Homo sapiens: one gene and its partner. The gene in region 1 interacts genetically with each later gene. Each region holds a gene or a part of one and is shown on either strand. Other genes may lie near its edges. The genes, in order: CALCOCO1 and CTNNB1.

Region 1 (15,170 bases):
AAAAAAAGATGCAAATCATAAACTCTTAGCACTGGGATTGTAAGATATGTATGAGGGTATGTAAGAGGTCACCCTCAGGAGGCAGCCTCTTTAACATTTGACAGCTGTCATTTTTGTATCTCTTGTATTGAGCCAAACTCTCCTCTCCTATAACTTACCAGGGGGTCCTGAGACCTCTGGAGCCACACAGAATAAATTTCTTTCTTCTTCCAGAAAATTGTTTTCTCTACCAAGTAGCATAAATATTAACCACCACCTCCCATGTCCATCCTTCAAATTTTCACCAGTTTAAACACTCTAGTTCCTTATTTCATTAAATGACAAAATTATGTTTCATTTACTACTGGTAGGTGTGATATTTTAAAAAACTGTTTAAAAGAAAGAGGCATTCTATCCAAGGCCCAAAGTAATAAGTGAGTTCGTCTGAGAGGCTTCTTCAGGATATGTTAGTCTCACCCTAGGGAGATATTAGATGTCTACATTCTAAGTCATAGGTTAGAAAAGCAGTGGTCAGATTGAGCATCTGGAAAAGATTAGGGGCTATCTAGACCAGAGGTCAACAACTATGGCCCACAAGCCAAATCTAGCCTGCCACCTGTTGTATATCCCACAGGTAAGAATAGTTTTTACATCTTTTAATGGTTAAGAACAAATTAAAAGAAGAATATTTTGTGACATGTGAAAGTTGTATGAACTTCAAATCTGTGTTCAAGTTTTATTGAAACATCATGCTCATTCGTTTACATACTGTCAATGGATGGTCCTGCACTACAATGGCAGAGTTGAGTAGTTGCCACAGAGACCACATGGACTGCAAAGCATAAAATCTTTACTATCAGGCCCTTTACAGAAAGAGTCTGCCAACTTCTGGTCTAGATCAAAAGTTTATAATCAATAATGACTGCCCTTGTCTCAAAAAGACTAGATTCTAGTCTCTTGATTGAGTGAAAACAATGGGAGCCATCAGCAAAACATTCCTTAAAATATTACACAAAAAGATAAGAAAAACTATTTCTGTCTAAATTGTTCTCTAGAACCTGGAATCTTGGTTTCCTGGGGCTTAGAACTGGATCAGCTGGCTTGGGGATTTATGCATCCCAGAGTGAAATGGAGCTCTGGGCCTAGAGCAGCAGCAGCAGAGCACAAGACAGAGGCCTGAGTCCATTCCTTCTCTGGGTGGAGCAGATTGTCTGACATGTCATCCCACCAATCACAGGCTTAGAGACACAGTGAAGGCCCTGACTCGGGAACAAGAGAAGCTCCTTGGGCAACTGAAAGAAGTACAAGCAGACAAGGAGCAAAGTGAGGTAAGGGGCTCAGAGTTGATTTGCTTTCTCCATTGTCCAGCCAGTGTTTGATTCCCTCTCGAGAGCCAGACACCAAAGGGAATAAAAATGTAAAGAAGACATTGTGTGCACTCTACTAGGGAACATAAGACATATACCTAAATCAGGATTAGTCAGAGTGGAAAAGTGGAATATAAGAGTGTCACAAGAGAAATTTTTTTTGTTTGTTTTTTGGAGACAGAGTCTTACTTTGTCTCCTGTGCTGAAGTGCAGTGGTACGATCTTAGCTCAGTGCAACCTCTGCCTCCTGGGTTCAAGCAACTCTCACGTCTCAGTTACCTGAGCAGCGGGGATTACAGCCATGTGCCACCATGCCCAGCTAACTTTTGTATTTTTAGTAGAGACAGGGTTTCACCATGTTGGGCAGGCTGGTCTCGAACTCTTGACCTCAAGTGATCCACCCACCTCAGCTTCCCAAATTGCTGGGATTACAGGTGTGAGCCACTGCGCCTGGCCTCAAGAGAAATCTAATAAAGTATTGTGGAGCTCCAGGGAGGTGTATGAGTACACATCTTGTTAGAGACATTAGAAAAGTCTTTTTAAAATGGGTGTGGAGGCCAGGCACAGTGGCTCATGCCTGTAATCCCAGCACTTTGGGAGGCAGAGGCAGGCGGATCCCCTGAGGTCAGTTCAAGACCAGCCTGGCCAACATGGTGAAACCCCATCTCTACTAAAAATACAAAAATTAGCCAGGTGTGGTGTCAGGTGCCTGTAATCCCAGCTACTCAGGAGGCTGAGGCAGGAGAATCACTTGAACCCGGGAGGCAGAAATTGCAGTGAGCCTAGATCACACTACGGCTCTCCAGCCTGGGCAACAGAGTGAGACTCTGTGCCAAAAAAAAAAAAAAAAAAAAAAAAAGGGAGGGCCATGGCTGGGCGTGGTAGCTCACACCTGTGATCATAACACTTTGGGAGGCCAAGGCGAGAGGATTGTTCAAGCCCAGGGGTTCAAAACCAGCCTGGGCAACGTAGTGAGACCCCATCTCTACAAAAAATTTTAAAAATTAGCCAGGCATGGTGGCATGCACCTGTAGTCCCAGCTACTCAGGAAGCTGAGGTGGAAGGATTGCTTGAGCCCAGGAGGTCAAGGCTGCAGTGTGCTGTGATCGCACCCCTGAACTTCAGCCTGGGTGACAGAGCAAGATTCTGTCTCAGAAAAAAAAGGGGTGGGGTGTGGGGCCTAGTACTTTCAAACCTTTTTAGCAGAACCCTTTCCTCTCCTCCCACCAATAAAGTTTTTAATCTTGTGTGGAATCTCACTGAATAAACAAAAACAATGTTTTATTACTATAAATTTATTTTTATAAATTTGAATGTATAACCTTTACTTAAAAGGTAATGAAAGCACTTAGGTAATTTTGAGGCATACCAAACTTTGAAATGAGAGGCTATCGAAGACTGTTCTGCCAGCCTCAGCAACTAATGTATTTCCGTATTTTATTTTGGTTGTACAATATCAAGAACACCTTGAGTCACACACAAGTAGGTGCAAATAACAATTTTTAAACTGTCCACCTTGCAACTCAGTTTACTCTTCAATTCAATAGAAAATACAGTAGAAACTATTCTGAGCTTTGCAAAAAAATGAATTAACCTGGAAACATATGTCAATTGGTGATCTCCAGTGTGTTAACTTGTGATTTTATGGGTTTTATTTGTTTTGTTTGTTTGTTTTGAGACGGAGTTTCATCTTGTTGCCCAGGCTGGAGTGCAGTGGCGCGATCTCGGCTCACTGCAACTTCTGCCTTCCGGGTTCAAGAGATTCTTCTGTCTCAGCCTCCTGAGTAGCTGGGATTACAGGCACCCGCCACCACGCCCAGCTAATTTTTTGTATTTTTAGTAGAGATGGGGTTTCACCATGTTGGCCAGGCTGGTCTGGAACTTCTGACCTCAGGTGATCCGCCCACCTCGGCCTCCCAAATCATGCCGAGATTGCAGGCATGAGCCACTGCACCTGGCCTTGTGTTGTTTTTCTTTTTTTAACATAATTGTTAATAATTTAGAAGACATTCAAATCAAGTATCTGCAGAACTCCTAAATCCCTTCTTCAGTACCCTGGGTTTATGTGGAAGATTGTTAAAAAACCCTTTGCTCAGCAGTGAGAATAGGTAGAATATGAGTAGACAGAGATGAGTGTGAGGCTATTCTAGGAACAGAGAAAGACGTGAGCAAAGGCTTAAAGGCCAGAACACTCAGGGCAGTTGAATGTGCGGGTGAAGTGTTTGAGATAAGGCCTAGGTTAGACTGTGGTGGATCTTGAGCTTCATTTTTATTCCACAAGCGTGAAAGGCTTTGATGATTTTTCAAGCAGGGGTGACGTGTACTGTACTTATGGCCAGGTGTAGTGGCCCACGCCTGTAATCCCAACATTTTGGGAGGTGAAGGCAGGAGGATCCCTCGAGCTCAGGAGTTCAAGACAAGCCTGGGCAACATAGTGAGACCCTGTCTCATCTCTACAAAAAAATACAAAAATTAGGCAGGCGTGGTGGCACACACCTATAATCCCAGCTACTGGGGAGGCTGAGTTGAGACAATTGCTTAAGCCCAGGAGTTGGAGGCTGCAGTGAGCTGTGACCATGCTACTTCACTCCAGTCTTGGCGACAGAGCCAGACCCTATCTCTAAAAAAGAAAATAACTGTATTTAAAGAATCAGAACTGTACCTAAAGAAGAATAATCTGATTCCCTTGTGGAGAATGAACTATTTATGAAGTTATTCAGTAGTCCAAGCAAGAAATGACCAGAGTCTGAGATAACGTGGTTGTGGTGGTAATAGAGAAGGGAAAATGGCTGTGACCAGGATGGAGAAGCAATAGGTTTTTCTGTGGGCCGCTAGGGAGAGGACAGAGCCAAGCATGGCACCAAGGGCACCAGGTTACTCCATCCTGAGTAACGTGGGAGCTAGTTGGTACCCTGGACGGAAATAAGAGTAGGAAAGACTGGGATGGGGTGAGAGGTAGACTGTTGAGTTTAAGGGGCCTGTAGGGCATGAAGACTGAGTTTTGATTTAAGAGAAAGAATAGAGTAGCAGAAATGGTACATGGAATGCCTACACAGAAGACCCAAGGCTGCGATGCTGGATACCTCAATTTGGGAGCTGGAGACTGGATATGCAGGATTGAGTTATTTGAGCTGAGAACCCAAGAAGGGCTGGCAATAGCTGAAGGCTTGAGTGTGTGTTAAATCTGAGAAGTGGAACCTTGACCTCTCTCATCACAATGGTTCACCTCCCGAGCCACCCCAACACACATACCCCTTTCCTTACCTGCTTTCCACTTCCCTCAGGCTGAGCTCCAAGTGGCACAACAGGAGAACCATCACTTAAATTTGGACCTGAAGGAGGCGAAGAGCTGGCAAGAGGAGCAGAGTGCTCAGGCTCAGCGACTGAAAGACAAGGTGGCCCAGATGAAGGACACCCTAGGCCAGGCCCAGCAGCGGGTGGTGAGTGAGGCCCCTTGGCAACAGGAAACGGGAAATTCCAAGGGCAAGTTGTAGAGAAGCCTGCGTGTCTAAAGAGAAGGGGAGAGACATGGCTAAAGACTAAACAACACAACCCCGAGTCCTAATGCAGTGGAGTGGAGGGAGCGTTTACCTCCCTGGCTGATGAATGATTCACTAGGAACTCTGATCTCCATCTCCTCCTTTCTCCTGAGGCCGAGCTGGAGCCCTTGAAGGAGCAGCTTCGAGGGGCCCAGGAGCTTGCAGCCTCAAGCCAGCAGAAAGCCACCCTTCTTGGGGAGGAGTTGGCCAGTGCAGCAGCAGCCAGGGACCGCACCATAGCCGAACTACACCGCAGCCGCCTGGAAGTGGCTGAAGTTAACGGCAGGCTGGCTGAGCTCGGTTTGCACTTGAAGGAAGAAAAATGCCAATGGAGCAAGGAGCGGGCAGGGCTGCTGCAGAGTGTGGAGGTAGAGGGATGGGGGGTACCTGGCAATCTGATGGCCACTGCCCCCACCTCTGTGGGGACTCCTACATGTGGTCAGACCCTCTGGGAGGAGAGAAGAGGGGTTGAGAACCTTAGAGGACTTGGGTGGAGAGGGGCTTTGAGGGAGGTACACTTTACTTTCTAGGCATGACCCATCCCTAACCGGGGTATCCCAATCCTGATCACCAGAGTACCTTCCTTGGAACAGAAACATTTTCTGTCCTAGACCCCAGGCCCTGCCATAATGCCCATTCCTGATCAAGCAGCACCTGCCGTCATGTCCTGTCCTTCATTCAGAGGGTATAGGAAATGAAGGCAAAAAGGGGAAAGTGCTCTAAAAATGATGCTTTAAATAAAGGAAAGGACACAGTAAGGGATGGTGCTGTTGACAGTGGCGTTCCTTTTTCTTCCCCCTCCACCCTCCCATTTTCCTTCTTGGCTATCTCTCAGGCAGAGAAGGACAAGATCCTGAAGCTGAGTGCAGAGATACTTCGATTGGAGAAGGCAGTTCAGGAGGAGAGGACCCAAAACCAAGTGTTCAAGACTGAGCTGGCCCGGGAGAAGGATTCTAGCCTGGTGAGGCATCCAGCCACCAAGGGTCCTGTCCTATGGCCTCCTGAGGCATCCATACCCCTTCTCTCTGTCTTGGGTATGGGCTCAGAAGTGCTAGGTGTCCACTACCATGTTGGGTGGCATTTCACTTGCACACGCAAGCCCTCATTGGTTTGAAATGTGCATTTTTTTCTGCTCTCAGGGCACACATCTGGGCCCAGTAGAGGTGACTTAGGAGAATTATAGAGTGGCCCCTTGGTATGACCAAGGCCTCTGCACCCCAGCCTAGAGGAAGTCATGCAGGTCCCCACTCGAGAGGCAGAGACTAAGACTTAGAAAACTGAGTATCTGTGGCCCAAGACAAAGTACTCATGGAGGAAGTGTTGGGAATTCCTGTGTGTGTGTGTCAGAGCAGGGAAGAAGCAGAGGCATGGGGAGACCTGGTTCTAGATTGTTGGTCCTGGTCCCAGAGTCCAGGTTCTTGGAGGTACATTCTAGGCTCCAGATTCCATTGGGCCCTCTTCCCTCAGGTACAGTTGTCAGAAAGTAAGCGGGAGCTGACAGAGCTGCGGTCAGCCCTGCGTGTGCTCCAGAAGGAAAAGGAGCAGTTACAGGAGGAGAAACAGGTGAGCACCCATAACCCAGGCCCCGTGGATGCCACAGGTGAGGACTTGAGGGCTAGAAACTTTGTAAATTCCTGTCATCTCTTGGCTTAGAAACTGTTCTCTCCAAGAGGGCCCGTACCCTGGCTTCTCTTATTAGCTGATTTGGCAGGACAGCGGATGATCTCTGGGAGAAGGGAGGGATGTAAGTGGTGAAGCAGGGGTGCTGGGGGGAGTGTCTGCCTGAAGTTGCCCCAATCTTTGCTGAAGGCATCTAATGCTGAGGAGCTAAGAGTTCTTCTTGGGTGCAGCTTCTGCAGGCTAGCAAGGTTGGCACCTTCCCATTCTCTAGCACCTGCCTTTTTCCTTCCCAATTCCAGGAATTGCTAGAGTACATGAGAAAGCTAGAGGCCCGCCTGGAGAAGGTGGCAGATGAGAAGTGGAATGAGGATGCCACCACAGAGGATGAGGAGGCCGCTGTGGGGCTGAGTCCGTGTAGCCCCAATCTTGTAACACCTCTTCCCCACTCTACCTCCCGCTGTTGAGGAAGGCTCCATGTAACCTTGCTGGGAGCTGCCTTTGCCTTCTATGTGTTTTGCCTTTTCTTTCCCAGACCCTGGCCCCTGTTTAGTCTAATGATACCCCTCATCCAGAGGAGACAGCTGGTCCAACTCCTCACAACACATCCTTTTTTCTTCTCTGCCTGCTTCATCTCCTACAGGCTGCCCGGCAGCTCTGACAGACTCAGAGGACGAGTCCCCAGAAGACATGAGGCTCCCACCCTATGGCCTTTGTGAGCGTGGAGACCCAGGCTCCTCTCCTGCTGGGCCTCGAGAGGCTTCTCCCCTTGTTGTCATCAGCCAGCCGGCTCCCATTTCTCCTCACCTCTCTGGGCCAGCTGAGGACAGTAGCTCTGACTCGGTGAGCAGTGGAGGAGCCTGTGCAGAAGCAGTAAGGAGGGGCAGGGCCAAACCCAAGTGTCCCAGCCTGGAGTGCAGCACGATCTTGGCTCACTGCAGCCTCTGCCTCCTGGGCTGAAGCGATCCTCCCACCTCAGTCTCCCAAGAGTAGCTGGGACCACAGGCAGGCACCCCCGGCTAATTAGAGAAGGAATCTTAGCTATCCAGGGCTCTCTTTTTCCCAGGGGAGAGGAGGCAGGCCCAGCCTCTCTTCAGTGCCACACCAGTAGATATCATCCCAAAACCCAGACCAGCCCAATAGCCTCACTGCTTCTCCCCCACAGTCATTCTCTTATTATTCACCAGCCCCTCAAAACGCCTCTCCTGCCTCACTCTTCCTAAGCCCCTCAGGTCACTGTCCTAGCCTTGGCTGCTCTTCCCATACCTGTCCCAATGTGCTGCTCCCCCATCTTGGGACACCACCCCAAAGCCCAACCCTGTCTCTTTGGCATCCAGGAGGCTGAAGATGAGAAGTCAGTCCTGATGGCAGCTGTGCAGAGTGGGGGTGAGGAGGCCAACTTACTGCTTCCTGAACTGGGCAGTGCCTTCTATGACATGGCCAGGTGAGTTCAACCAGCAAGGCCAGGAGGGAGGTGGGAGGAGGTCAGAGGGAAAGGGCATCTGTGTGGACAGTCACCAGGCCCTGCTCCCAACCCCTGCCCTTCTTGGCCTCAGCCAAGAAAAGGAGATACAGGTATGGTTAACAAGGAAAATGACTCACTGCTCCAAATCCCAGATGCCTTCAGGTAATCCCTACCCCTATCTTATCAATGCACTCAGAGGTCCTGCCTTTAACTGGCTTCTATGTTGTTCTAGCACCATCTTCTGCAGAGCCCAAATTGCCCTGCTTCCCCTCTCTCCTGCCTCTACCCCTTCCCCAACCACCAGGTAGGTACCTAGGGTCCTCCGGGGAGGAAGGGAGGTGACCATGGCCCCCAGGGATAGGAGCAGAGAGAAGACTGGGATCCAGCATCCATCTGGCTACAACTGAAATGCTTTCCCTCTTCCCTGACTTCCCTGGGTAACCCTTAGGGAAGGGAACCTATAGAGGTGGGGGTTTCAGGTATCAGATTGTCCCCTTCTGCCTTCCCTTTTATTCCCAGGTTCAAGGGGGCAGGCACAGGGAAGAGAGATTTGATCATCTAGTCCCGGTTTTGCCTGGATGTGAGATGGGCTCAGGGCAGGGAGGGGGTGATGCTGTCATCCTTCTCGGCTGGAGCAGGAAGATGAAGGACGATGTCAGACTCATTTTCAGCCTCATTAGGCAGCAGACGGAGATGGAGGGAGGAGAGCAGGAGGCTGGGGGATGGGCTCTGCACTGCAGAGACCAGCAGGGACTAAAGAAGAGAGGACATGGGGAACTGGAAAAATAAGCCTTCCAGGATTGTGGGGAGAAAGACGCTGTGGGAGAGGCCAGGATGCTGCATTAGGCACAGGATAACCTGGGAACCCAGGCACATGGGTCCTGCTCTCCGAAGTCTGCAAGTCAAGAAGGGAACAGAGCACGCCGACCCTCTCCCTTTCCCCTCTGTCTCTCTTAGTGGCTTTACAGTGGGTACCCTGTCAGAAACCAGCACTGGGGGCCCTGCCACCCCCACATGGAAGGAGTGTCCTATCTGTAAGGAGCGCTTTCCTGCTGAGAGTGACAAGGATGCCCTGGAGGACCACATGGATGGACACTTCTTTTTCAGCACCCAGGACCCCTTCACCTTTGAGTGATCTTACTCCCTCGTACATGCACAAATACACACTCATGCACACACACACTCACACACATGCATACACTTAGGTTTCATGCCCATTTTCTATCACACTGGGCTCCATGATATTCTGTTCCCTAAGAACTGCTTCTGTGTGCCCTGTTTTCATCCCAAGATTTCTCACTTCATCCTCTCCTACCTGGCTCTTTTGTCCCAGGGAGGGGTCCTGTTCGGAAGCAGTGGCTGAATTTATCCCCTGAAAGTGGTTTTGGAGGAACCGGGATGGAGGAGGCCTTCCCCTGTGGGAATAGAATCGTCCACTCCTAGCCCTGGTTGCTTCTGATACACAGCCACTGCACACACACACTCACACTCACACTCCCTTGTCTGATGCCCCAAAGCCAATTCCTGGGGCACCCTACCCTCTCTTATTTGGAGTTTCCGTTGGTTTACCTGAGTTTTCTCTGGGGTCTGCACAGAGGCAGCAGCATGGACATCATGGCCTCTCAGGTCCCTTTTGGTTCTCAGTTTCATTGGTTCCTCTTTCTGTTCCCCCATTGACTTCTGTGCCCCACCCTAGCCTTTTCCATAACCTTAGGTATTCAGTTTGGAGGGGTTTTTTGTATTTTTGAGGATTCCTGTATTCTGTATCCTCTCCTCGCATCTCCTCACATGGAAAGAAATAATGTATTTGTGCCTTCTGTGAGGAATGGGGGGAACAAGTGGTCCCAGGTATCCCCATTTCCAAGGCCCCCCTCCCTCTCCAGGTCCCCCCACAGCAATAAAAGCTTCCCCCTGATATCCATCCCTTTGTAGTTTGAACAAATATATTTATATGATATGTATGACTGTTGTCACAAAATGTGTTCTTATCATGAGGTGTGACTGGAACACAGGGCCCAGACCTCCAGCTCTTAGACCCTGGTGGAGGGAGGAGGGAAAGAGGGGACGCATCCCTGCCTCATGGCAGGGGATGCTGGGCAGTTACTGTCCTGTCGTGCCTCCTGGTGTGCTGGCCATGAGTGGGTTGTCTCAAGTGGGAGTCTGGCTTGGATAATGCGGCAGTTGGGGAGGGAGCAAACTCATGGGTCCCTGTCACTTCTGCTCAGGGTTTAGTCCCAGGGTGGGTGCATGCCATGGAAAAGTGGGACAAGTTTCCCACTGCCGAGAACTTCACCCTTCATAGCAGCCATCACTGTACCTTATGCCAAAGGACAGGCTTTATTCCTGTCAAGAGCGTACACCTTTGAGTATCTACTTAGTAAAAAATGCCCTAAGCCTCATACCTCTAAAGGCGATTTTATATTCCTCCTGTTTCTGTTTCTGTTTCTTTCTCTGTTGCCATCCCCTCATACCTGTATGCACACTCTGCCTCAACAGTCACAAAAACACATTCATCCACTCTAACCAGCTTCACAGGCTAGACAGACACATACACAGCATCGTAAAGCATTTGTTAAGGACCTGCACGCTCACCAAGGCTCTCAGCAATGGCCTGCACAAGCACATGCCTACAACCCCCTCGTCCTCCAACCCAATAGCTCCCTTCTCAGCTGCCCTCCTCTCCCTTCAGGGCCCCTGTGTGGACCACCCCCACCATTCCCTTTCTCCATTCACCTGAAATGCTCCTGTCCACCCCCTTTCCAGCCCCACCTGGATGACTTCTTACATCGTTCCTTCTTCCCTCACGTCTCCGTCTCCTAGCAACCCCATCCCGTTCCCTGAATCCCTTCCAAGGAAATTAGAGATAATGGATCTCTCCTCTCTCCATCCCAACCCCTCTTTATTGATCCTCCTTTAATGAAAGTTAATTATAACAATGATTTAATTAATAGAATCCCTCTCTTCCTTTATTGCTTCCCGTATTAAGACTATTAATAAATACGAGCTGGGCTGACAGAGGCATCCATCACCCGCCTGGGATTCCCCCCATCCCTCCTTTTACCTTCCCCCCTCTCCCTCTCCCTCTCTTGGCCTATAAACTTGCCGGGGTAGTGGGGGTTAATCAGAGAGGAATTATGAGCCAACATCCCCAGCAGGAGGTGCATTTAATGAAATCATGTGTGATTTATTTTCTGGGGGAGGTTGGGGCGAGAAGAATCTGGGACCCACACCTCCTGGCTTCCAGTGAGTGGCTGCCTTGTGCAAAAAAGGAGAATAGTAGACAAACAGGAACCCAGGCCCCTGCTCCCATGCCACAGCCCCTGCCAAGCCGCACATACACCCACAGGAGCCACATGGCTAGCTGCACAAGGCCACTGATACAGACACTGTCAGACTAAAAGCACTTAAGAGGACTGCGGTATAGGTTTTGTTCTTTCCAACCTCGAAAACTTCACATGGGTCCTTCTCACCTCCTTCCTTTCTCTCCAGCCCTGTTCTGCTTCACTGTCCCGAATCTGCTTCATACTCCCCTCCTCCATGAAGCCCCCCAACCCCCCACCAGGCTCCTCAACATGGATATCTAGAGTTTCTAGCTGCTCCTTTCTCTGCCCTTTGTGTGTCTTTCTGGCATGCAATTTGCAGTTTCAGACTGGGGGTGCCACAAAATGTGGGGCCATTTCTCTTCCTTACTCATGGTTTGCCTATCCCAGTATCCAAAGCATGGTCCCCGACACAGAGGGGGCTCAAGGAAGGGTAATTGACGGCATGGGCTGGGGGAAACCCAGGGGCAGCCAGCTTCCAATTCTAGTTCTCTTTCCTACTCACTGAGGGGTATTTGGCAACTCAGCCTTTCTACTTATTTCTCTTCTATAATGGATCATCCCTTTCCTCCCTGCTCCCCAGCATCCATGCAAAAGCCGATAGATCTGAATGGGCTTGAGACTCTAATGTGAAAGGAGATGTCAGCCAAGTAGCAGCAAATAGGAACTCGCGTCAGTATTTGGTGGTGAAAGAACGAATCCAAACACACCACTCCCCCACTTATCGAACCTCAATGGCCACCTGTTACCTACAGGAATGAGAAATGTAGATTGCTTAGTGTGCCAGTCAGGGTCTTCACCATCTGTCCCAACTTGCCCTTCCATTTCCCATCTACCCTAAGGAACCCTGTACTCCAGTATAACAGAACCATTCCACAAAAACATACACTACTTTCCTCCTAGCTCAAAGGATACCACCTACATGGAGCCTTACTTGACTGCCCTCAGTTATCCTTTGACATACCACGTAGAGCACTTTATAAAAAGATGCTACATGTGTTTACAACTTTTTATTCTCCCTAAACTGTAAGCAACTTGAAGGCAGATTCTATGCTTATACATCACTGTGTTCCTAAAATCTAGTATAGAGACTGGAACATAGGACCAGTCCTCCAGAAATAATCTTTAAGTTATTTTAATGAAATGTTTTATACATACAAAATAATATATGTAATGAATAATAAAGTGAACATCATTGAGCTCACCAACTAGCTTCAAATAAATATTACCAATACCATTAAATGAAGTGCCATGTGTTGCTTCAAAGAACAAAATATGATGTCATTTGGGATAGAGGTGTTTCTTTTCTTTTTTTTTTTTTTTTTTTGAAACAGTCTCGCTCTGTCGCCCAGCCTGGAGTGCAATGGTGCGATCTCAGCTCACTGCAACCTCCGCCTCCCAGGTTCGAGCGATTCTCCTGCCTCAGCCTCCTGAGTAGCTGGGATTACAGGCACACGCCACCATCCCTGGCTAATTTTTGTATTTTTAGTAGAGACAAGGTTTCACCATATTGGTCAGGCTGGGGGATAGAGATGTTTCTATTAAATCAGGATACTTGTAGAGTGCTCTGTATGGGTCAGGTGCCGGGGAATGGAGATAGAATAGTGAAAAACCCCACCCTCAAAGAGCTCTTAGTTGACATAAATCACCAGATACAAGGAAACAAGATAAATGCTACTTTAGAGGTATGCACAGCATGCTATGGGACCACAGAGAGGCAGATACTTAACGAAGACTGGGGAAGGCAGAGCTTCCCACAGGTGATAATGTGGGGTAGACGTGAGCCAAGCATGTGCAGGCAGAAAGAACAAAATATGCGAAGACAACTTACTCAGAAGTCTATACACTCAGGTAGGGCTGCCAAGTGAGGATCTTAACCCAGTGTGGGAAGTGAGGCTGGAAAGGTGAACTGCTGACATTTATTCATACATTCACTCAACAAGTATTAATTGAGTGTCCACTATGTGTCAGGTGCTGTTCTAGATATTGGAGAAGCTGCATGAACAAAATAGGAATTGGCTAGGTACAGTGGCTCACACCTGTAATCCCAGCAACTTGGGGGGCCAAGGCAGGAGGGTTGTTTGAGCCCACGAGTTCAAGACCAGTCCGGGCAACATAGCAAGATCCCTTCTCTAAACAAAAATTTTTTTTTTTTTTGAGATGGAGTCTCACTCTGTCGCCCAGGCTGGAGCTCAGTGGTGCAGTCTCAGCTTACTGCAACCTCCGTCTCCGGGTTCAAGCGATTCTCCTGCCTCAGCCTCCTTGAGTAGCTGGGATTACAGGCGCGAGCCACCATGCCCGGCTAATTTTTGTATTTTTAGTACAGACGGGGTTTCACCACGTTGGTCAGGCTGTGCTTGAACTCCTGACCTCATGATCCACCCGCCTCACCCTCACAAAGTGCTGGACTTTACAGGCGTGAGCCACTGTGCCCGGCCAAAAAAAATTTTTTTAAGTAAACCTGGCATGGTGACACACGTACCTGTAGTCCCAGCTACTCAGGAGGCTGAGGTGGGAGAATGGCTTGAGCCCAGGAGGTCAAGGGTGCAATGAGCTATGATAGCACCCTACAGCTTTGGGTGACAGAGAAAGACCCTGTCCCTAAAAAACCAAAAGCAAAACAGGAATTTCTGCCCTCATGGAGATTATACACTATTGCCGGATCATGAAAGTCCAGATAAACCAGTTAGGAATCTTGTAATAATCCAGGTAAAAATGGTGAGCATCAAACTTAGTGTCAAAGGGAAAAGAAGCAGAATTATTTAGGAGGCCGAATTAATGAAACTTGGTGAAAACTAGGTATGGGAAGTGAGCAGGAGTCAAGTTTATCCCAAGTTTCTGGTTTCAATGACCAGATAACTGATGATGCCATTCACTAAATAAATACAATTGGTCCTCTGTATCTGTGGGTTCTGCATCTGCAGATTCAACCAACCATGGATCAAAAATATCTGGGGAAAAAAAAAACACACAAAATAACAGTACAACAACTGGCCGAGCACAGTGGCTCACGCCTGTAATCCCAACATTTTGCAAGGCCAAGGCGGGCAGATCACCTGAGGTCAGGAATTCGAGACCAGTCTAGCCAACATGATGAAACCCCGTCTCTATTAAAAATGCAAAAATTAGTTGGGTATGGTGGTGCATGCCTGTAATCCCAGCTACTCGGGAGGCTGAGGCAGGAGAATCGCTTGAACCCGGGAGGCAGAGGTTGCAGTGAACCGAGATCGAGCCACTGCACTCCAGCCTGGCAACAGATCGAGACTCTGTCTAAAAAAAAGGAAAAAAAAAAAGAAAGGTCTCCCTGCATGTATAGAGAGAAGGTAAGAGGACCAAGGGCAGAACTCAGGAGAACAGCATGGAAGGGAGGTATGGAGAATGCAGAATTATGGAGAAGACAGAGGGATCAGTCAGAGAGGTAGGAAGAAACTCAGGAGAAATGAATCAAGGAGAGAAGCCAGTAGTGGCAGGTGCAGCAGGGAGGCCCGGGAAATAATTCCTGGAAAGCACTGGATTAGCAGCCATTGGTGGCTCAGCAAGAGGAGCTGGAGGAAAATGTTGGAGGTGGAAGTTACTGCACAGCTGGACTTCACAGAACCTGCAATAGAGACACAGTTCTTCTGATCTGTGGGAATTAGGAGTTTGTCTTCAGACTGACATAAAAATGAGGGCTTCAGGCTGGTGCATTGCCTCATGCTTGTAATCCCAGCACTTTGGGAGGCCGAGGTGGGAGGATCACTTGAGCCCAGGAGTTTGAGACCAACCTGGGCAACCAAGTGAGACATCATCTCTATTTTTAAAAACAAGGCCAGGTGCAGTGGCTCACACCTATAATCCTAGCACTTTGGGAGGCCGAGGCGGGCAGATCACTTGAGGTCAGGAG
Region 2 (15,170 bases), on another chromosome or scaffold:
CAAATGAAACTTCAGTGTTATTGAAATGAAATAATACATCTGTCCTGTTACAAGATTATTTTTATTTCTCTTGTGGTTTCCTAGCTTCTGATAATCAATAATTGTAGATGAGTAGGTGGTAAGTTTTAAGTTTGTACTTTGAGCTTAGTCGGAAGCATGCTTGACTGCCAACCCGGGGCACAAAGGATGAAGGCTTTTAGAACTGGACAAACTTCTAACAAAAGGTATTTGCAACTCTTTTGTAGTGTGTCATGTTGATTTGTGACATTGTTTTTGAAAATATGTGTTAACTTAGTTTTCTTGTAGCCCTCTTTTTATTGGAACTGTGGTATCTATTGTTGAAACTGCTTGACTGAGAACATTTTTATACCATAAAAGTAAATAGTAAACATAGCCCAGGAGCGGCTTCTGGTTTGTCCATCGTATGTAGCCATTGCCTCCTTGTACTCTCATTGAGAAGATACTGATTTGCAGATTCAGTTGTCCTTCTCTAACAGACTATTTATGTAATATTGCAGTTGTGATTGTGATAGGTAAGTGGACCAGTCGGTTAAAATAAATACTCAGGTTTCACAAAAGGAAAATAATATGATTTGTGTTGATCTAAATGAGTATAGGAGTTAACTCCTATAGTTTTTCATCACTTAAACTCAGGGGAAAGTTCTTTATTTCCTCTGTTTACTTAAGAATGCTGCTTTTGTGTTTCATGCAAGACTGAGCTTGACTCAGTTTGAAACCTAGGCTCATCTGTTGAGGCCTGAACCCTGCTGTCCTTGAAGTATGCATATAATTTGCTTCCTTCCTAAGGAAAAATAAGCTCTTGAAAGATAAAGTCAATCACATTAGGAACCCATTTTTAGGGTTTAGCCACTTTTTTTTTTTTTTTTTTTTAACTCATGGGCATCTCTTCTGTTAAGAGACATTCCCCACTCTCCAAGTTTCCCTCAAGCCTGAAGCAGCAGAGTGAGTAGTGTTGGAGCATGTTTTCATTGCATGCTTGGGTCATGTTGAGTGCCCTCCAGTGGATATAGTATAATGCTTGTGATTTTTTTTTTTTTAATTCCAAACAAGTTTATGTGGGATATATTTAGGAATAGTTCTGATGAGGGAGAATCAACTAAGAAACCTTTGATTTCTAAAATAATTAATATCATTACTGCTAATTAAAATACAGGCTTGAGAAAATGTCTTCTCAGCCAATATTTGCAGTAGAAAAGTCGGGAGGTTTTTTAAGGTCACTTTGAGTAGGCAGTTCTGCTTAAATATATCATAATGATAAACCAGAATCTCAGTATAGTACTTTAGGAGGTAAAAGATCATAATATTCAGTTATATTGATGAATTACAGCAACTGAAATTCTCAGAAAAAAATTAATGAAAATGTGAATTGTCAATTTGTCTAAAATCATTCACAGAGTAAAACATAAGTGCTCAACTTGATTATATTAGGAAATAGATAGAAATAAAGGTAATTGAGCCAGTGTATGTGACCTAAAATATAATGCCCTTAGTGACCATAGGGTTGGTCTCATTTGTACATAGTGGTGGGCCATGATGAACTGTGTTTTGCCCTTTGAATTTTTCCTTAAAAAGCTTTCTCTAGGCTCCTATGTTCATGGTTTTTCTGTTAGTAATATTATTTTCTGAAAATCCATGTTTCAAATCAGAATCTAATTAGCAACAGGAATGAAGCTTATTCTAAATTAGTTTTTGGAAGTTAAACGGTCAGCATATGGAAATTTTTCAGGGTTTAGATTTTTAAAAATTTGTTTTTCAGAATATGTTGCTGGAATGAAAACGTTAGCGTAGGGACGGAAAATGACACTTACCAGTGATTGCTTTACTTTGCCTGTGGAATTCAGTGTAATTTTGTGGAAACATTGGTATATGATTTTTTACTACTTAAGAAATGTATTGCTATAGTTAGGGTTTTTTTTTTTTTAAAGGCAAGAATGCCTCAAGTGCTTTATGTGAATGATTATTTCAGGATGGATTAAATATTCCTCCATCAAGGACCATACTTGTAAATCAGTGATTTCCAAGTTGGTGCTTAGTATTTACAGCATTTACTGTCTATAAGCTTCTGTTCTGATTTTTCAAGAGTTTTCTGAGAAATGAGAGTAGGCTTAAAAGTTCTTTGAAAAATTATGTACATACAACTTACTGAAAAAAATTGCTACCGGGGACTTAATTTGTCTCTTGAAATGGGCTACTTGCCTTCATTAATGTAGCATACTACAATTTGATGTTCAAGATATGTTACTAAGAATAAGATCGCTTTCAGAAGCCTTATATAGGATTGGTCTTACTACATTGTAGTGGGAATGGCTACTCAAATGTCTCCAGGGCCAGTTAGGTATTGGGTAAATGGGACCATGCAGACTATTAAAAATTGAAGTGCACATGAAGCAGCCAGTCATAAGCAGCTCCAGCCACTGTGTGGGAATATAGTTTATGTTGCCAGATCATCTGATTTCTTTCCCCTAAGTGGGAAATCCAGATCAATGTACATCTCTTGATTTGCAAGTGTTGGTGAACAAAATTCATATTTTAAGATGCTGTATTCAGCACAAATTAAATACACTTATTTGCTGAATACTGCCAGTTTGTCCCTCTGCAGTAGTACCATTTGAAGTACAGTGTTTTCATAATGATTCTGTGAAATGACTGGTTCTGTGAATGTACATAATTTAGCAGATAACATTGTTAAATTATTAGGTTTGTATTTATTTAGGCACTTGGGAAATGCCTTGTGTCAATTGATTATAGATTAGGAGCTTAAAAGCAAGATTTATATTATCAACTTATTTGTGAAGACTGGGAAACCCACATTTTTAAAGTTAGGAATTAAGATGGCCAGGTTCAAGGAAAAGGGGGAGAAGTAACTTTCTTATTACTCAACCATCTTAAATAGAGTTCTTTAAGTGTATTTTTAAGAGGTCTCAAAACTTAATCTGAAGGGACGTCAAATGCTGGACAAATTCTGTGTATACAACTCAAGTCAGCCCCCAATTTTACTGGTCTTTAAATCATGTCCTTTTTACCAGAAGTTTGCATTTCTAAGCTAAACTATTACTGTTAGACTAGATCCAAAACTTAAAAACAGTTTAGGTAATTAAAAATTAATTGAATATAAACGTTTTACTTAAATTAATGGCAAATGGCTTTTTGGCCAATTTAAGTTTATGTAGGCAGTTAAATCGATTTTGGTTAAATCTTTTGCTGCTAACAAGGTATTTCCAGATTTTGAAAAGTGGGGTGGCCTGGTGCCTGTAGTACCAGCACTTTGGGAGGCTGGGGAGGGTGGATCACCTGAGGTCAGGAGTTCGAGACTAGCCTGGCCGACGTGGTGAATACAAAAATTAGCCAGGCATGGTGGCAGGTGCCTGTGATCCCAGCTGCTTGGAAGTCTGAAGCATGAGAATTGCTTGAACCTGGGAAGCGGAGGTTGCAGTGAGCTGAGATCACGCCACTGCACTCCAGCTGGGGCAACAGAGCGAGACTCCATCTCAAGAAAGAAAAGTGGGGTGTTTAGTCTTCAAACTCCGTGTTTAAGTGACTGGAGTGAAAATGTAAATCATAGGCCGGTGTTGGTTTAAAAAGCATCATCTGAAAATAATGCTGTAGTCTGCAATTATTTTTATTACGATACGATGGTGTAAAATACAAGCAGATCAGTGAACCATTCATGAAACATTAATCCTAAAGGCGTCTCACCCCAAGTCTATCCCACAATCTCCATGAGACTTCGTGGAACCACTGTAAAGTTTCTTGTGTAATATCCCAGAAGTTTCCTACCTCTGGTATCTTTTGAACTTGTTGAAAAGGCTTTTCCACCCCCTCTTTATGATGGTTTGAAGAGTGTGAACATCTGAATGATGCTGGGGTGAAACTGCTTCATAACACTTCCATTTTCTCCCCTATTTATTTCCATATTTTTATTTTTTCACTAATATCCCCACGGTTTTACTTCTGTTTTAGTAATTCACATGTTGCTGGACTAATTCTTTTTAACTGACTTGTAACAGATATGTTAAACCGTTTAAAACTTGGGGGGTATTTTTAACCTACTTTAAGTTAGTTCAAGTTAATCAGTCTACATGGCATATAAACCTTATGATTAATAAATCTTAAATGCTGGTAGCTGAGTTGGAAGCCAAAGACGTACAAAAAAGCTGAAGTGTTAGGTTTAGTGTGATAAGCTTCTCTTACTAACAGGGTTTTGTAATAGCAGAAATAGATATATGCATATATATGTGCATATATATAGCATACCTTATTGGATGTCCATATAAAAATGTGTAAGAAGTTAAATTTACTGCAAAATTTCTTGGGAGTGCAATTTGAAGATGATCTTAAGTGGTGATAGTAGTTTGCTACACTGGGGGATAGTTGTTGCAAACTGCTCCTAATTTTCCTTTACTGTGAAGTAAACTGAACAGCTGTAATAGGGATTAGGAACTGTACTCCCTCTCTCTCTTTTTTAAGTATAATTAAGTGGTTTTGGGGTAAGGGTGTAGGGAGTGAGTGTCTTTGAAGTTTTGCATATACTAGATGAATGCCACATGTATAAGGGAGGAACAAGGGATTCTTGGAAATATTTTTCAATCCAAGTAACTTTGGAGGCTTCCAAGTGGAGTTCATTCCCCTGTGTAGGAAAGTGCTGGGGTAGACCCTTAAATTCCTTTCTGAGCCATTGAAAGAATGTCCTCAAACTTCGCTTATACTTTATAGTTCATTTAGATACAAAAGTTACAAACTGAATGCTATTTAGGAAACGTAATACACTGACATACCGCTCTTTAAATAGATTATAAATTTAGTATATCAATTTTCTGGCATTTTGCTGAATTTTATTGTTTAGTTTTCAAGCCCAACTATCTTGTTACTTTGTATATCGTAGTTGTCCCCCGTTGATCACTGTTTCCTGCTTAATTGTGCTGTCGTTTTTCCTGGGTCCTGATTCAGAGTGTCAGCATTCTGTTCCCCATAGAATAAGAAGAGGCTAGAAAGTTTACAGATGAGATATCTAGGAATGCCAGAAGATCAGGGGTCACCGTTGAGGCAGAGTAATTAATTATGGTTAAAATGGTGTTGCTGATAAGTGGGTGCTGGGAAATAATTAAAATTTGATTTTTTAGAAGAATACTTCTCATGCTTGAAGAGCGCCCTCATTATATGCTAAAGGGCCTCAGGTTTTTCCTTATTGCCATTATGCTGCAGATTCTATTACATTTGTCTGAAAAGATCTAAGACAGAAGGGCTGTTTAATACCTTCCCTTTTCTCCTGAACTTCCCCTCTCCTCTCCCCCATCAGGAGCTAAGTAGGAACCCCTTCACCTTGTTACCATCAGATTTCATCAATGGTCTGTCTTTACAATGAAGGAAGTAGTACTGCATTCTGGGCAGAGGCCAGTCCTGAGGCATGCCTTTTCAAGGACATTGTTACTTTAGTTACACTGGCTCTTCTGTTTTAACTCTTATCCCCCAGACTCTAATCCTGTTGCTTTTTTTGGTCCCCATCTCCCACCTTTCATCATCTGAAATCCATTCATTGTAACTTCTGGAACTCAGTCGTTAGAAAATCCTTTATATTCTCAATCTTGTGAATGTTCCTTTCTTTCTTATTCCAGCTGTAACCTAGCCTTCTCCCCAAGAATGCTACTTCCCTTGCAGCTCTCTCAAGTGGTGAATTTTTCCCTTCTTGCACACCTTATAACACTGAACTAGGAGGTGTGTGGACTAAATGTCTGCTTTTGTTCCTTATTGTCACTTCTTGACCTTTATTTTCCAAAACTTCAAGCTTTGACTTTCATGTGATCAAATTATACCACCCACTGCCTGTCTTTATTTCAAGCACCTGCAAACCTTCCTGGGTCATTCACATCCTTCTTTGTTCACTTCATTAGCTCTTGGCTCATTGTCACTGTCTCTTATTTCTGTCATAATTCTTGGTGACATCAGTATCTATGTAGAGCAATACTAGTGAAGATGTGGTCTGGTAACTGTTACCTGTATGAATTAAGATAAGGAGTTATGCCAGAATATAAGTCACCTGTGTCACTAAGTTTACTGTTTAGCTTACTTTTTTTGTAGCAAGATTTTGATGAAGGACGCAATATGTTGATTTACAGTCTGGTACAAATTTTGATGTAGAAGATGCTTCCAATATCCTGGTCTCTTAGTTCCTTGATTTCTTCTCCAGTGATCTTATTTTCTACCCTAACTCAACTACATATTCCCATTGTCATATCCTAGAATATTTTGTCTTTTATCTGTAACTCTGCTCTCTTCCCCCAATCTCATTTCAAGCATCCCACTTTCTAATTCCTCTAGTAAATACGTCAGTTCCAACAGCCCATCAATCCCATTGGGACCTACAGTTTATCTATCCAAGCTTTTCCCTGTTCCTCACCCTCACTTCTATACAGCTGAAGTTTCATACTGAATTATAATCACTTTCTCGTATACACGTTTAACAATCTTGTCCCTCCCTGGCTTCATGCCCAGTGATCTCTTGTATCTATGACCATGTCCTTTATCTTCTCCTCTGTCACTGGATGAACTGTAGCCTTCCAAGATAAGGCCACTCAGTTCATTTGTACAGCAGATTCCATCCCCTCTTGCTCTCAAGAATATTACTGTGGTATCTCTCTTTTCTTGTCTCTACTGGCTCTTTCCATGAGCAAACATGGTATTATCCCATTACAAAAAAAATTTTTTCTCCGTCTCTCCTTCCACTCACCACCTCAGTCTCTGCTTCTCTTTCCCGCAAAATAACCTTGAAAAATTGCTTTATGTACTCCCGTTTTCTTTTGAACCCCTGCCAGTGACCACCACGTTATAAATTTGTAGTTGTCATCTCACTTAATCTGTTAGTAGTATTTGGCACCATTGCTACAGTTGCTTGAAATGCCTTTTCATTGGTTTCCAGGCCACCATGTCTGTTAGCAGCTTTTCCTCTTACTTCACTAGCATTTCCTTCTTTGTTTTTTCTGTTATCTTTCTGACCTCTGTTGGAGTGGCTGAAGGTTTAGTCCTTGAATCTTTTTTTGTTGTGCATATTTACTCCAGTATCATAGCTTTATACAGATGGTATTTACATCTGTTTGCTAACGATTTCCAAATTGGTATCCTTAAACTGGTATCCAGCTATTTTTTGGTCAGCATTTTGGATGTCTAAGAAGCTTCTCAAACTAAACTGACCTCCCGGTTTTCCCCAAAGCTGCATCTTAGTCTTTTCCGAAATGCAATTCTGTCTTTCCAGTTACCTAGCTTAAAAGCTTGCAGTTCTTGACTCATCTTTCTCTCATACCACGTATCTGAATTCTCTCTGCAAAAAATTGTCTGTTCTCCCTTCAGAATAAAGTCACGTGTCATTTTATGATGGGGATACATTCAGAAATGCGTCATTAGGAGATAATCATGGTTGTGTGAACATCAGAGTATACATAGACAAACCTAGATGGTATAGCCTACTACACATCTAGGCTATATGGTGTGGCCAATTACTATGATGAATACTGTAGGTAATTGTAACATAAAGGTAGGTATTTTTATCTAAACGTATTGAAACATAGAAAAAGTACAGTAAAAAATATGGTATCAAAAATAAAAAATGGTACAACTGTATAAGGCAGTTGTGATGAATGGAGCTTGCAGGATATGTTGCTCTGGGTGAGTCAGCGAGTGACGATTGAGGGAACGTGAAAGATGTGGGACATCACTGTACACTACTGTAGACTTTATAAACACTGTACACTTGGGCTACACTACATTTTTGTAAGGTTTTAAAAGACTTTTTTCTATAATAAACCTTAAATTACTGTCACTTTTTTACTTTATGAATTCTTAATTTTTTAAACGTTTTCACTCTTGTAATAACACGTAGCTTAAAACATACATTGTACAGCTGTACAAAAATTTTCTTTATATCTTTATAAGCTTTTTTATATTTTTAAAATTACTTTTTACCTTTTAGCTTTTTTGTTGAAAAACTAAGACATGGGCCAGGCGCGGTGGCTCACGCCTGTAATCCCAGCACTTTGGGAGGCTGAGGCAGGCGGATCACGAGGTCAGGAGATAAGAGACCATCCTGGCTAACATGGTGAAACCCCGTCTCTACTAAAAATACAAAAAATTAGCCGGGCGTGGTGGCGGGCACCTGTAGTCCGAGCTACTTGGGAGGCTGAGGCAGGAGAATGGCGTGAACCCAGGAGGCGGAGTTTGCAGTGAGCCGAGATAGCGCCACTGCACTCCAGTCTGGGCGACAGAGCGGAAACTCCGTCTCAAAAAAAAACAAACAAAAAACTAAGACATGAACACATTAGCCTAGGCCTACAGAGGGTCAGGATCATCAGTATCACTGTATTTCCATCTCCACATCTTGTCCTTCTGGAATGTCTTCAGAGGCAGTAAACATAAATGGAGCTGCCACCTCCTGTGATAACAGTGCCTTCTGGAATACCTCTTGAAGGACCTACCTGTGGCTGTTTTATAGTTAACTTTTTTTTTTTAAGAAGTAACAGAAGGAGTACACTCTAATGATAAAAAGTATAGTAAGTACATAAACCTGTAACAATCATTATCATTATCAAGTGTCATGTACTGGACATAACTGTATATGCTATACTTTTTTTTTTTGAGATGGCATCTCACTCTGTCACCCAGGCTGGAGTGCAGTGGTGCGAGGATAGCTCACTGTAACCTCAGACTCCTGGGCTCAAGTGATCCTCCTACCTCAGCCTCCCAAGTAGCTGGGACTACACCAGGCACCCCACCATGCCTGGCTAATTAAAAAAAATTTTTTGTAGAGACAGGGTCTCACTCTGTTGCCAGGGCTGGCCTTGAATTCCTGGCATCAAGTAATCCTCCCACTTTGGCCTCACAAAGTGCGAGGATTACAGGTAAGAGCCACCATGTCTGGCCCACTGTACTTTTATACAACTGAAGCACAGTAAACCTACTGTGGTTTCGTTTACACCAGCATCACCACAAACACCATGAGTAGAACATTGTGCTGCGACGTTAACGATGGCTACAACATCACTAGGTGATAGGAATTTTTCAGCTCCATTATAATCTTATGAGACCACTGTTGTATGTGCAGTTCATCATCCACTGAAATGTCCTTATGTGATGCATGTCTTCATATCCAAAAATATTAATCATTTCTCACTGAAGCCATGCCATGCCATGCCATCTTTTGCCTGTATTATTATTTTTCAGCTTTTATTTTAGATTCAGGGTGTACATGTGCAGGTTTGTTAGAAAGAGTATATCGTATGATGCTGAAGTTTGGGATACAGTTGAACCAGTCACCCAGGTAGTGAGCATAGTACTCAATAGATAACGTTCTAACATTACTCCTCCTTCCCTCCCTGTTCTTGTCTCTGTCTATTGTATCTTTATGTCCATGTGTACCAAATGTTTAGCTCATTCTTGTGAGAACATGTGGCATTTGATTTTGTTTCTGTGTTAATTTGCTTACAATAAATAGTCTCCAGCTGCATCCACATTGCTACAAAGGACATGATTTTGTTCTTTTTTATAGGCTGCATCATATTCCATGGTGTATAGGTACCACATTTTCTTGATCCAGTCTACCGTTCATGGGCATTTGGGTTGATTGTATCTTTGCTATTATGGATGGCTTTTGCCTATATTATTGGAAAGGCCTTCTAACTGGTGTCCCTGCTTACACCGTTTTCCCCCTTAAATGTGTTTTCAACATGGTAGCCAGAGTAACCCTTTTTATAACAATAAATCGTGTAACTTTTTTGTTCAGAAACTTACAGGGCTTACCATTTCATTCAGTAAAAGCTCAAGCTCCTGTATAGTCAGACCATATCCTTCATCACCTGTTACTTTTCTCCTCTGACTCTTCAGCCTTTTTGTTTTTCCTCAAACTGATGAAGCCTTCATGGCTGATGTCAGATGTTTTGCCCATTGAGATCTTCCTTGTTGACTCAGTTGCACTTGGTCATATGATTTTCATTTATTTGGGGTATCTAATCATAATCTGAAAGTTGGCTACTTATTTTTACCCCTTTGAGGGTCCTTGCCCTGTTTTTGTATCCCTGATAGCGGGACAGCCAGATATCTGGAACTTACAGGTGTTCAATAAAGTTTTGTTGAATGAATATTCTGGAATCACCCAACCTTTTTTTTCCCCTCCACTTATTTTTCTTCTCCCTTTCACGGCCTGAAAGATGTCCTATGTATATGGTTCCACTTATCACTCTCATCCCAGTTTGTGATATACTATTCCATTATATTACTATTATTAATACAATTCCATTGAACTTGCTCTTGCTGACTTCACCACTGGACCTACATGTTGGCCAAATGGATACTTTATAATTTTAGTCTTGACCCCTGCCTTTGGCACATTTCTTACCTCTAGCACAGCACTGTCCAGTAATCCACACTTTCTGAGACAGTGGAAATGTTCAGTATCTGTGCTGTTCAGTTGGTAGCAACCAGCTACCCATGCCTATTAAACATTTGAAATGTGGCTGTGTGACTAGTGGCAATTATGTTGGAGAGTACAGTTTTAGAAACTCCTGTTTTTCTTACATGGCACTACATTTAGTATCACAATCTAATTGTGCAAGCCAGATAGGTAGGAGTCATCTTTATTCCTGTTATTTAATTTTTCTCATCTACTATATCCAGTTCATCACATCAACAGCGCCTGTTGTTTCTACCTCCTAAATATTTCTTTAGTCTAACTACTACTTGTCCCTAGTGCCACCACCATCTATCAGCTGGAATATTGCTATAGCTGCCTTACAGGTTTCCCTTCTTTCCTGTTCTCTTCTAGTTTTTTGAATTTTAGTCAGCACGAGATTTTAAAAACTCAAATAAGATTGTGTTATTCACCTGCTTAAAACCTTTCATGACTTTCAGTGTCACGTAGAACAGAAAACACTTTTCTTACCAAAGGCTAGAGAGCTCTACGTGATCTGGCTATTTTTAACGTTTCATTGCACTCACCCTTTTCCTCTATAATCAAACTACTCTGATCTCAAGGGTTAGTTCTTGAAAGATGATCATGTTCTTTAATGACTTTAGGTTTTTGTGTGTTATTTTCTATTTCTGGGATGTTTATTCTCTGTTCCTTACATGCTGGCCCTTTTGCATCCTTCTTCAGGTCTCAGCTTACATGTTACCTTCAAGAAGCCTTTGACCACTCTAAGTGGGCCCTTCCTTCCACTTCTGCTGTGTAATCCCACTCCCTTCTCCCACTTGTTAATTAGTTACATACTTTTTTGTAATTGTTTATTTGGTTGCTGTCTCCCTCTCAAGAATGCAGGGACCATGTCTGCATTCTGCAGTAATCACTACTGCACACCCAGAATCTATTACAGATCCTGGCATGTAGCTGATGCATAAATATTTGTTGAATGAAAGTCTGTACATTGTATTTATGCTATTGGTATTGCTATGACCTGAAACTAAAAGGAGTTGTGGAAAAGATTTCTTATGGAACAGAAATATCCCTTTTGATTAATATCACAATCTCGTAAATTGAGAAAACAAAAAAATATATACTACTGGAGCATTCATGTATAGTTGGAGATTATGACTCATTTATTGGTGTGTTTTTGGACTCAGAACAAAGATGAGGGAATATTCCTTAAAGCTCTGTATTGAAATAACGAAAAGCAGTCACATTTTAATAATAGAAGCTTCCTAGCTTACTCTTTCTGTAATCTTCTTTTCCTAAATGTAAGAGAGCCTCATAATTATGAGGCTTATTACTAGAGTAAGGCTGTCAAAGGCAGCAAAATGTCTTTCTGTTTGGAAGAATAACATAAACTTGACATGTATGGTGGGGGACAGAAGGTTTCAAAAGTTTAAGAATCTGTGTTGTCTTAACAAATAGATGCTTCTCAAGGAGCTTACGCTAGTGGTTACTCTGTCCAGTCAGGGTTTTTTCTTCTTTAACTTGGGTTCATTTCCTGATGGCACACATGAAGTTTGGATCATATGGTTTGACTTTAGCTATGGTCCTTAGCTATGGGGAGCAGCATCAGCGACCTGTGACATGTAAATTAAAAATACAATGCCAGGGCCCTTCCCCAGCCCCTCTGATAGAGAACCTCTTGGCCATCTGTATTTTTAGATGTTCCAGGTTAGTCTGATTAACACCCTTGGTTAAGAACCATTGGGAGGATCTGATTGCCAGTTTAAGGGGACCTTCAAGCCTGTAGGTCTTTATAGTTAAAAAAAAAAAAAGATTTTAAAAATCATGCATATGTTGTGGCTGAATTCTGGTTTAGCACATACTGCTTTTAATGGCCTGAAATGTTTTTCCCAAATAAATTGTCTTGTTATAGCTTTCATGTGTGATTTGGTCCAGCTTCTTGTTTTGAAGATACTTACGGGGGGGAACACTTTGTGATTTCTCTTAGTAACATATTAACCCACTTAAAAACCCTTTCTATTACAGGTCTTCACATTTAGGCTTAATGTGCTTAATTCAAATGTAAAAATACACCTGCCTTTGTTCTCAGTGAAAGTATGTAATAAATAAATGAGGGGTTGGCAAACTACTGCCCACCATCTGTTTTTTTATGGCCTATGAACTAAGAATCGTTTTGGATAGCTAAAAAAAAAAATCAAAAGGATAATTATTTTGTGACGTGAAAATTATATGAAATTCAAATTTCAGTTTCTGTGAATGAAGTTTTAATGGAACACAGCCATCCATGCTTATGTAAGTGTGCATATTCTCTGGCTGTTTTCACTGCAATAGCAGAGTTGAGTAGTTGTGACAAAGAGTTTATGGCCCACAAAACCTAAAATATTTACTTTCTGATGCTTTACAGAAAAAGTTTCCTGAACCTTATTCTAGCTATATGTTGTTCATAAATGAATCTTTCGTGGTTCTGAAGGCATTTAAGAATCTCTTAGGTTATAAATTGGCTGGGCGCAGTGGCTCACGCCTGTAATCCCAGCACTTTGGGAGGCCGAGGCTGGTGGATCACGAGGGCAGGAGTTCAAGATCAGCCTAGCCAAGATGGTGAAACCCTGTCTCCATTAAAAAAAAAAAAAAAAAAAAAAAAATAGCTGGGGTTGGTGGTGGGCAGTAATCCCAGCTACTCGGGAGGCTGAGGCAGAGAATTGCTTAAACCCAGGAGGCGGAGGATGCAGTGAGCCAAGATCGCGCCACTGCACTCCAGCCTGGGCAACAGAGTGAAACACCATCTCAAAAAAAAAAAAAAAAAAAAAACACTCTTAGGTTATAAATAATTGTTGTTAGCTCTCCAAGCCTCCATATTACATTTTGTGTGTTCTCCTGTTCACATTTTGAGCATTTTATTTTTTATTAGCACATTCAGTTCATCAGGTATTTAAGAGCTTAATATATGCCAAAGCATATATTAAGCGAGAAGCTGTTTCTAAATGTACTGTCTCAGCCCTCACAGAGTTCACTTCATTAGGCTCTTTAAAATTTCTTTCTTTAAAAGGTCAGCGTGCTGGTATAGTGGGGAAGGGAAACTCTTACAACACGTCGAGTAGAGGAAGGTTATCATTATGGGATATAATTTGGAAGTCATTGAGTACCTGCCATTAATTCTGCCTGTAGTCTGAATGTAGAGATTAACATGTAGAAACTTTTTTGAAATAAAATCTTCAATTTCTTTGGCATATCTAGTACTGTCTAGCTAGGCATATAGTCAAAGTATGGTGTATATTTCAAGTATTAAAAGTTTTTTTGGGCTGTAGTCACTGTTGAAAGGATATAGTTCTTTACTATTACATGTGATACCTTTATATAAAATTGGCTAACCCCTGTCTTTCATTTATCTGCAACACTGACTGTTACCAGTTGTCTCTAACTTTGGTATGGGGGGTGGAAATATGATTAGATTGAAAGGGTACATGACTGAGCCACAAGCAGACCTGGATTTGAATTTTAACTGAACGGTTTATTAGCTATTCTTACATTAATACTGCTAATCAGTTTTCTTGTGATATGAGGAATGATGTCTTCTTTATGAGGTTGCTAGGAAGATTCAATGAGATAACATACTAGGCTCAGAACTGAAGTTGCTAGGAATTTAATTATGCTACCTTGTTAAAGTATGTCAAAGGCAGAATTCAGTGTTTAGCTGATACCACAAGGCAGTATCCTAAAATTATGCTGTAAAAGATATAAAGATGCTGTAAGTGACTCAGAAACCTAGTGACTTTGTAATGCAGTTGATTCTTAGAATACTGTCACTTTAACAGAATAGGAGCTAGGAATGAAGAAATAGTTATTAAATTACTAAAATAGAAAATTTATTGACACATGTAAAGTGACATTTGCTTAAATATTGAAAAATTTGTAGTACTATTTCCTTGCTTTAGAAAACATTGGTTACCACTTTTTTTATTTATAGCAGTTTGTTTTTGCCTTGAGGCAAGATGGTTGACTGAGTAGTTGCCACATTTCTTTTGTACAAAGTCCATTTCATAGGCCATCTAGCTTTTATGCTTAGAAACATTTCCTTAACGTTATATTTCAGTATTTGGCTAACCTATATAGGGTTAAATTATATAGGCTAACTTCTCGGACAGATATTTCTAATAATTTATGTATTTGGTTCTGCAAATGTATGCAAAAATATATGTACAAAGGTATGCAGATGCCTTGCATACTTGATATATGTTAAATTTTTTTTAATGTAGACCTTTTTCGTTCTCTTTAATGACTATATGGTATTCCACCATCCCCCGCTCACCTGGACAACTACAGTAACCTCCTAAATGGTGTTTCTACTTTGCTATTGCCCCTTATTGTCTTTTTTCCCCTTTATAGCTGCTGGAGTGAATTTTAGAAAGCCTAAGTCATACATCACATTGCTTCATGGGCATCCCAGTACACTTTGGATTTTATTTTACATCCTTACTGATCTGATTCTCATCTCTGTCTCTTCATGGTTCTCTGCCTTCTAGTTACACTGGTGACCTTTCAAAACCTTTACCACATTGAGTTCATTCCTTACTTTTCACTCTTTCTCTGCCTGGAGTGTTCTGCCCCATCTTTACGTGGCCAGCTGCTCCTCCTCTGATGAAATGTCTCTTCCTCACAGGCCTTCCCTGACCACCCACTAGAGTAGCACATCTTCTACCTCATAAACTTGTTTATTAGTATTTCTTACTCTAAATTTTCT

Evidence for each region.
Region 2: of CALCOCO1 (region 1) and CTNNB1, changing one enhances a phenotype caused by changing the other (phenotypic enhancement), as found in Homo sapiens cells (one study listed by BioGRID).

Annotation. Positions count from the first base shown.
Region 1 is NC_000012.12:53,705,876-53,721,045, reverse strand, and holds the end of CALCOCO1 (calcium-binding and coiled-coil domain-containing protein 1), read left to right. Parts: intron 1-1,216; coding exon 1,217-1,307; intron 1,308-4,630; coding exon 4,631-4,786; intron 4,787-4,998; coding exon 4,999-5,253; intron 5,254-5,720; coding exon 5,721-5,846; intron 5,847-6,352; coding exon 6,353-6,448; intron 6,449-6,804; coding exon 6,805-6,913; intron 6,914-7,145; coding exon 7,146-7,345; intron 7,346-7,839; coding exon 7,840-7,946; intron 7,947-8,199; coding exon of another isoform or gene 8,200-8,271; intron 8,272-8,924; coding exon 8,925-9,102; 3' UTR 9,103-12,529; downstream 12,530-15,170. UniProt on the Homo sapiens protein: Functions as a coactivator for aryl hydrocarbon and nuclear receptors (NR). Recruited to promoters through its contact with the N-terminal basic helix-loop-helix-Per-Arnt-Sim (PAS) domain of transcription factors or coactivators, such as NCOA2.
Region 2 is NC_000003.12:41,202,165-41,217,334, forward strand, and holds part of CTNNB1 (catenin beta-1), read left to right. Parts: exon of another isoform or gene 1-224; intron 225-892; exon of another isoform or gene 893-15,170. UniProt on the Homo sapiens protein: Key downstream component of the canonical Wnt signaling pathway.